Linked DNA regions of Homo sapiens. The protein of the gene in region 2 purifies or fractionates together with the protein of the main gene of each other region. This does not show direct contact. Each region holds a gene or a part of one and is shown on either strand. Other genes may lie near its edges.

Region 1 (3,815 bases), on a different chromosome or scaffold from region 2:
CTTAATGCATATTACATTGCAAAGTTAGTCTTTTTATGTGCATTTTAAACATAGAATTAATTGAATTTTCTCACAATGATTTTGTTTCAGATAATCAGAAACTCAGTCTTAATCTTTGAAATCTTCTTAATCAAGAAGTGTGTATTTTTTGAGTCATTCATTCAGCAAATGCTACCGAGATCTGCTGTGTGTGCTGTGTTTTGGGCATTGAACAACAGATGAAGTCTTTCCCCTTGGGAAGTTTATTTTGTAGAGAGGGGGACAAAAAGTAAACAAATTTAAAATATAATGGCAGGTGGTGATAAGCATTCTGAAGAAAGGTAAAGCATTTTAAGAGAGAGGAGACACTTTAAGGGAACAAGGGAGGACCTCTCTGAGATGACATTTGAACAGAAAGGTGGAAAAGTAAGAGTATCTCTGAGAATGATTGGAAAGGAATGTCCCTGAGAGAACAAGTTCACAATCCCTGAGACAAGAGGATGCTTTGGTACACTTAAGGAAAAGCAAGAAGGCCTGTGTGACTAGGCCACAATATGCAAGGGGGAGAGTGGTAGATAAAGAGAGGTAACAAGAGCCAGATACAGCAGGCGGTGTAGGACTTTCCATTCTCTTCTAAGTGAGATGAGAAGATATTGGAGTGTTTTAAGAGGGGAAGTGATGTGACCTTATTTATGCTTAAAGATATCCTGGCTACTATTTGTAAGATTGACATAGTGGAGCACAAATGGATGCAAGGAGACAAGTCCAAAAGATAACTGATGTTGCATGTTTGGAGTAGGATGGTAGTGGTTAGAGTTCATACTTGGGGATATGTTTTAAATATTTTAATATGTCTTAAAAGTAGCTCACAGAACTTGCTGATAGATTGGAGTATGGGTTGAAAAAGAAAAAATAAGGGTGATTTTTAAACTTTCAGATTATATCTTAGACTACAAGTGTAAGACTTTGATTGTAACAATACCTGAAACTAGCCTCCTCTAAAATCCCAATTTCAAGCACCTTCTCTTATTTAGTACCCTCAATCCAACATTCTTTCTTCCTCGGAGGATTGTCAGTCTGTCATTTTTTCCCACTGTTCTTCACTCACTTGTGCCTTCTCTCCTTACCCAGGCTAGATTCCACCTGAGGTTCATTACTATAATCACTCCTTTCCATACATCTCTAACTAGCACCTTGTGCGCTCCCTCAGTCGTACTCACCTGGCAAAACCTAACAAACTGGCTAACTCCAGCTTTCTTCCTACTCTGGGTCTCCACCAAGCACTTGAACATGATAAGAGAAAATGACACAACCATTTTGACGAGTCTACTTTAAATTTAAGACCACCAGCCCCAACCGGTTCCTTAGCAAACTCCAAGATGACTATTTCACAGCTTTTCTTCACACCTCCAATGCTTACTGCCCTCTCCTCACTCTCATTTCTTGACTTTGTTTCCTGTTTCATCATGAAATTAAGAAAAAACTTTATCTTTCCACCATTGCATCTGCTATCTGTCTGCATCTATACTGCCATATCCCTTGTATTCCCATCTGTCACAATGGATGAATCATTGCTACTTCTGTGGCCAGCATTTGTCCTGGATCTCTTTCTCTCTCATTAACTTTGCACCTGCATTTATTTCCCCTCTCTCTCTTCTTATATTAATCATTTTAAAAAATGTATTGGATCATTTATCAGCACCCAAACACATCTTTCATCTTAAAAACAAAAACACCTTCCCTTATCCCACTTCTCAAGCTGCCTTTCTATTTCTATGCTCCTCTTTATGCAGTGTCCTCAGAAGAGTTCTCTGTACTCACTCTCTCTATTCTTTTTACTCGTTTTTGACTCCTAAACCCTCTGTAGGCTACATGCCTTCCGCCCCACTGCAAAGGTGTTTATCAGAGTCACCAACTCAACTTTGCCAAAGCTAATAGTTCTCAAGTCTCTTTTTTTAAATTCTCCAATAGAATTTGATGTAAGTATTCCCTCCTCCTTGAAATACTTTCTTCACTTGGTTTCTAGGACACAATAGAGAACCTCTTTGTTGATCTTCCTCGTTTTCCTAACCCTAAATGTTTGAGTGCCCCGAGGCAATACTATCTTGTCTCTATCTCTGCTGCCATGGTGATCTCATTCAAGAGTCATGGTTTTGAAAATCATCCATATATGCTGATGACTCTCAAATTTATATCTCCAGCCCTGACCTGTCACCTAAGCTCTAGACTTATACAGTGAACTGCCGACTCATCTCCTCCTCTTGGATGTATAGTAGGTATCTCAAGTTTAACATACCTCAAACTAATATCTTGATTTTCATCCCTCCAACCTATTTCTTCCCCTTCTTTCCACATTTCAATACGTGGTACCACCATTCACCCAATTGTTCATTTATCACTACATAGAATCTCCCCTAATAAATGAACCAGATTCATTTTTTCCCTCTGTATTTATGGTCAAGATTTAGTAAGCACCTTACTGTATCTAGAAACACTAATAGGTAGTGCTGATAAGGAGAGATTAGAAAATAGAGACCATCTTTGAGGAATTTACAGTCTGTTGAAAGAAGAGAAATACCCAGAAAGCATGAATAATGATTTAGGCAAGATTAATTAATTAATTAAGGTCATTTCCACATTTGATTATTTTAAGACATTCTCCCTTGACTAGGAGGAGTTGGTGAAGCACAGTAAATGAAAATACTTTTTTTCTGCATTTTCGCTTTTTTCCACAAGGGATCCAGGTACACCTAAACTGTTTAGATTTTGCTATCTCTAAACAGAACAGCCAAAAAAAAAAAAAAAACCTATTAGTTAAATACTTCTTAATATGAAGGCCTTGGGCCACATATTGTGTCATTATAAAAGATTATGTGACCCACTGTCTGTCTTCAAGAAACATTACAGTAGAGGTATGGAGATGAAACATGACAGGTAAAAAGATAACTAAAGATACAAGGCATAATACAGAAATCAACTTTCCTTCTGAAGAGGATGCACTGTAGACTGTTATGATCAAGAAAGGCAGAACTTAAAGTACAGATGATTAACTCTGATAATAATGTAAGTGGAACCTTGATTTATTATTATGCCCTGTAGTAAATACCTGGTTAAATCCAACTCATGCCTATCCAAAGGAAATTGGTCTATATTCTGTGTTTGGGAGGTAGAAAAGAAAGCAAGTGGTAGAAATTACTGACCCAGGTTGTATTATTCTGGAGAGGCTTATAGAAGCAATGAGTATTTGGGGGATTTGAAAAAGAAACTGGACAAGATTTGTCAAAGAAAAAATTTGTTGGAGGTAGTATTCTAGGGGGAAATACATAGGCAGTTTGGGAGTGGTATATAACAATAACAACAAAATTTTGTTAAAAATTTGTTTTAAGGAACCAAAAATGTAGCTAACAAAATTTTTACATGATAACCTTTGTTCATAGATTCTGTACTCGAGGTACTATAGACATATACTACATGAAATCATTTGTTACATGTTTCATTCTTCTAGAAATGGGAGACGTACTAAGTATGGTTCAATAATGGTTCACAGTAGTAAGGATTTGTTGTGCAATTACTTTGTGCCTAGCATTTTGTTCTACCCAGCCAGAGACTGAAATATGGATTCCATAAACACTTTAGATAGGTTACTCAATTTTGTGAGATTTAGTTTCCATTTTTGTTTATAGCTGTGTCTCCCCTGCCTCTGATATCTCCTGATACATGGTGGATACTTGACATAGAAAGAGAGAGAGAGAAGAAAGTCATTTGAGTGGATCAAGTAAAATTATATATACATAAAGGATCTGGGATATAATAGGTGCACAGTAAGTTCTTATTTG
Region 2 (4,464 bases):
CAGCCCTGGGACTCCTACTCGCTTGCTGTGTCCCTAAGGTCCCTAAAGTCTCCTGAGAAGTGGGCTCGTCTTTCCTTCCTTTTCTCTCAAAGGGATGTCGTGAGGATCATGCAAAAAAAACTGGACACTGGCGGACTTCGAGAAAAGAATAACGAGATTGCATCAGACAGGAGGCATGGCAGGACCTGGGCACGGCTTTCTAAAATCCAAAGAAACAGGCCCCAGCTGAGCTGAAATGGACCCCAGACCCATCGAAACCACTGTGCTTAAACTATCCCCTCATCTGGGGTCCTCTCAACTCCAACTCTGAGGCCAAGCTTCCAGGGTTTCCATGACCCTCCTGGGCCTCTACTGGCCTCTTATTTGCATATAGCTGTTGAATCTTATTGACCTACAGGCAGAAGCTGAGGCACAAATATAACTTTAAAGAGTTTACTTGAGCGAGAGTAAGGATAACTGCCCAGAACAAACTTCTAAGTTGCCGTGGGGTGTGCTGCGTTGGGCCTTTCCTACAGGTTTTTATAGGCAGAAGGGGGCAAGGATGACAAAGTTGTTTGGCAGGAATTCTCCTTGGTTTATAGAAATAACATTGATTGGTGGGGTGCGGTGGCTCACATCTGTAATCCCAGCACTTTGGGAGGCCGAGGTGGGTGGATCACCTGAGCTCAGGAGTTGGAGACCAGCCTGGCCAACATGGTGAAACCCCGTCTCTAAATACAAAAATTAGCCAGGCACGGTGGTGGGTGCCTGTAATCCCAGCTACTCGGGAGGCTGAGGCAGGAGAATTGCTTGATCCCAGGAGGCAGAGGTTGCAGTGAGCCAAGATTGTGCCATTGCACTCCACCTGGGTGACAAGAGAGAAACTCCATCTCAAAAAAAAAAAAAGAAATAACATTGATTAGTGATTGGCTATACATTGTTGAACTATAGGGTATGAACTATAGGGTGTCCAGTGTACAGCATTTTATGGCTACTTGGTGTCACTCTAGAGCCACATAGCAAGTGGCTTCAAGAGGTAATTCTTGATCCTTTTGTAGTTCATGAGCGTGATGATTGGGTGTTCACATGCATGTGTGAGCTGTGCCACCCTCGAACCTTGTTACCATGTAGGCACATTACCGATCTGACATGAAGAAAAGAAAAGAAAAAAAAAGAAAAAGAGATAATTCTTTAGCTCAAGGGAGGAGTAAGACTTGACAGCTGTTGCGTTTCAGTATGTCTGGGCCTGATTATTTAAAGGGGCTCCAATTCCTCAGATAAAACATTATTTTTCTGTCTCAATCTGCAGCCTTCAGGGCCAGATGGGGAGCTACTCTGTACACAAGAGTGTGGCACAAACCCAGGGTACAGCTGAGAAGAGCTAACCACAGCCATTGAATGTGGGTGCCCCCAGCATCATGAACGGCACTTAGTCCAGCTGTCCTTACTCATGGAAAACCAAGGCCCAGCGCAGTGAGGGGAACTTGCCCAAGGTTACATGGCCAATGAGACGCAGAGCTTCGTCTCCCAAATCCCTCACACTGTACCCACTTACCAGCAGGGCTCACTGGGGGAGGGCAGGGACCTCTTGTCTGGCCACACAGCTCAGCCCTTCGACCACCTGGTTCCCAGGGAACCTGCAAAACAATTCTCAAGCCCAGTCAGCTTATCCCAAAGAATGAGAACTCCTACTCCACCTTCGAGGCCTAATGAAACCACAGCCTCCACCGGGAAGCCTTCCCTGACCCCTGAGAATCCCCCCACCCATCCACCCAGCCAGGAACCCCTGAGCAGCTTAAGGGGATGGGTCCCCTTGTCTTGACCTTTACTCTTCAGACCCCAGCTCCCTGCCTGAGTCCAGGTCAGAGCTACACATGCCCTCATGGTTCCTAGCTTTTCCCTTCTAGCACTTCCTGGCTTTAACTGAAGTCACCTAATCTGGGAGGCCTTCCATGATCACCATATCATCTAAGGTGGCCCTGACCACCAAGGTGGCCTGACCTAAGGTCACCTGACCAGTAGACCCCCCCATTTCTGGTTTGTTTCCTTCATCCCACGACGATGTCATATGTGTTTACAGCACTGTTCCCAGCCCCAGAATGTCTAGGGTGGGGCTCAGCTAAGTTCCCAGGAGAACCCCAATACCCAGCACCGTGCAGGGCTCAGAGAGGCCCTCAGGAGGGATCTGTTGAATTAATGGGGATACATCAGTGGACAAATCGAAGTCTCCCGCCCTCCTGGAGCCTACATTCCCACAGGGGGAAACACACTGTAGGCAAACAAAATAAATACTAATAAATTAATGAAAGAATAATTAGTGAAATAAGAGATAACATAAGGACCGGTAATGCTAAGGGTTATGGAGAAAAACAAGCCAGGCCCCTGGATGGGGAGAGACGCCATTCCAGTAGGGGGGGCCCAGGAAGGGGGAAGAGATCACAGATGTTTGCCAGAGGAGTGGCCTCACTGGGGGTCCTGGGCCCAGCACTGGGGCACAGGGAGGGGGTGGGCAGCCCGTGGGGCCATGACCCCTCCCCTCCCCCGCGTCTGGGGAAGGGCGCTCCCTCCTCTCCACCAGTAGGGGGGCCAGGCCACCGCACACCGGGCCTCCCGCCCGCCCCACCGTCTTCCTGGATTCTTTTGTTGGAGGAGAGGCGGGCTGGGGGTGCGGGACCGCCGGGCCAGTGGCCACTGCGGGGAGCCCCAACCCGGTTGTCGCCCTAAACAGAGGTCACCTCGGTCAGGGTCTCCCTGGCTGCCGCCTTGGTTTCCCCGTCCTCGCGTCGGGGCTGTTCGCCGCCACTTCCCCGCGGCCACACCTTCCCTGGGGCCACCTCCTCCCGGAGCCCGCCGGGCCCACTCTCACCTCCCGCCGCCGATCGCACCGAAGCCCAAGAGGGCGATCCCAGCTCGAGATCCCGCGCCTCCGCCTGGGCTGCAACGTGGCCGCGGGAGCCGGGAGACCCCGCCCGGGAGGCTGGAGTTAACGCCCCTCCCCGCCCAGTATTCGCCAGGCCCGGGATCTCCGAGGCCGCCTCGAGGTCTGCCAGGGCGGGAAACTGAGGCCCGAGAGGGCGGTGAACTGCCCGAGCCACAGCACTGGTCGGTGCGGGCGGCCTCGAACCCAGAGGCCCCCCTCGGACGGTCCGCGGGCCTCGGACCCAGCCCACCGTCCGGAAAACTCTGTCCATCTCTTCCTCTCTGGTCCCCCTCTCCCTGCTCGGCCCACTTTCCCGGCAGAGCCAAACCAGGGATGTCTCTGGGTACCTCCCTAGGGTGGGCTCCTACACAGCCCGCGAGGGCCAGCCAAGCTTTGTTGGCCACCCACCGGGCCACCGGGGTCGGCTGATTTCTGCCTCTGGAAATTACCCATTTCTGCTTCCCTGGCCTGAAACCCACCGGCAGCCCCCAGGCTCTGCACTAGTGGGTGGAGGAGGAGGCCTGCGGTGAAGGTCGCAGGAATGCACAACCAAACCCAAGAGACTGGAACTTCTGGAAGGCCCTGGAAGCCGGAGGTGTCCTCAAACATCTGCCCATGAACCTGGCTCCCGCCTCAGAGCCTTTGCCCTTGCAGTTCCTGCAGCCTAGAATGGCCTTCCTTCCCACCCCCAACCGCAGCTCCACTCCTCAGGACGCCTCTGGACACAGATTTGAGTCTCTGCTCAGTGGTCTCCTCTGGGACCATTGTAAAGCAACCTGCCCTGCAGTCTCTGTCCCATCCCTGGGGTGTTATTTCCATCAGAGCACTCACTGCTAGAGTAAACTTTCCTATGCTCATGCTTTTATTTTCTTGTTTATTGCCTGTCTCCCCTACTAAATTTTATTCAGTTAATACTGTACACCATAATAAATGTGTTAGAAGATAATAAGTGGCATGGAAAAACAGAGGAGGGTAAGGGAGATGGGAAATTGTGGGAGTAGGGAGGTTGCAATTGCAAATAGAGTGGTCAGGGTAGGCCTCACTGAGAAAGTAACATTGGACAAATACTTGAAGGAAATGAGGGAGCCAGCCATGCCAATTCCAGGCAGAGGGAACAGTCAGCGCAGTGGCCCTCAGGCCTGTTGTGCTTGAGGACCTGCAAGAAGGCCAGTGAGGCTGGGAGGCCTGGGGAGGGGCAGACAGTAGGAGGTGGGGGTAGAAGGGGTGGGATGGGGCTCTGTAAATCTGGGAGGGCTGTTACTCTAGACAGGGCTGTGAGGAGGGACCTGAGCGATTTCAAGGCATACTCTGGCTTCTGTGGTGAGAATCAATGTCAGTGGAGGCTGGAGACCAGTGAGGAGCCTGCTGCCACTATCCAGGCGAGATGTCACAAACGCGGCAAGAGCGGGGAGGGAGAGGCAGCCAGAATTAGAATGGCTGTTGAAGGTAGAGAACACAGGATTTGCTGAGGAGTTGGATGTGGGGAGTGAGGGAAAGAGCAGGCAGGACTGCACAGTTTTGGCTTGAGCACCTAGGAGAGTTGTCATTATCTGAGATGTGGAAAG

The links.
Region 1: the proteins of PHETA2 (region 2) and RIC8B purify together in Homo sapiens (affinity purification with mass spectrometry; one large-scale study listed by BioGRID and IntAct). This does not show direct contact.

What each region holds. Positions count from the first base shown.
Region 1 is NC_000012.12:106,843,955-106,847,769, forward strand, and holds part of RIC8B (chaperone Ric-8B), read left to right. Parts: intron 1-3,815.
Region 2 is NC_000022.11:42,072,723-42,077,186, reverse strand, and holds the start of PHETA2 (sesquipedalian-2), read right to left. Parts: upstream 2,940-4,464; 5' UTR 2,846-2,939; intron 1,617-2,845; 5' UTR 1,535-1,616; intron 1,129-1,534; exon of another isoform or gene 1,026-1,128; intron 1-1,025. UniProt on the Homo sapiens protein: Plays a role in endocytic trafficking. Required for receptor recycling from endosomes, both to the trans-Golgi network and the plasma membrane.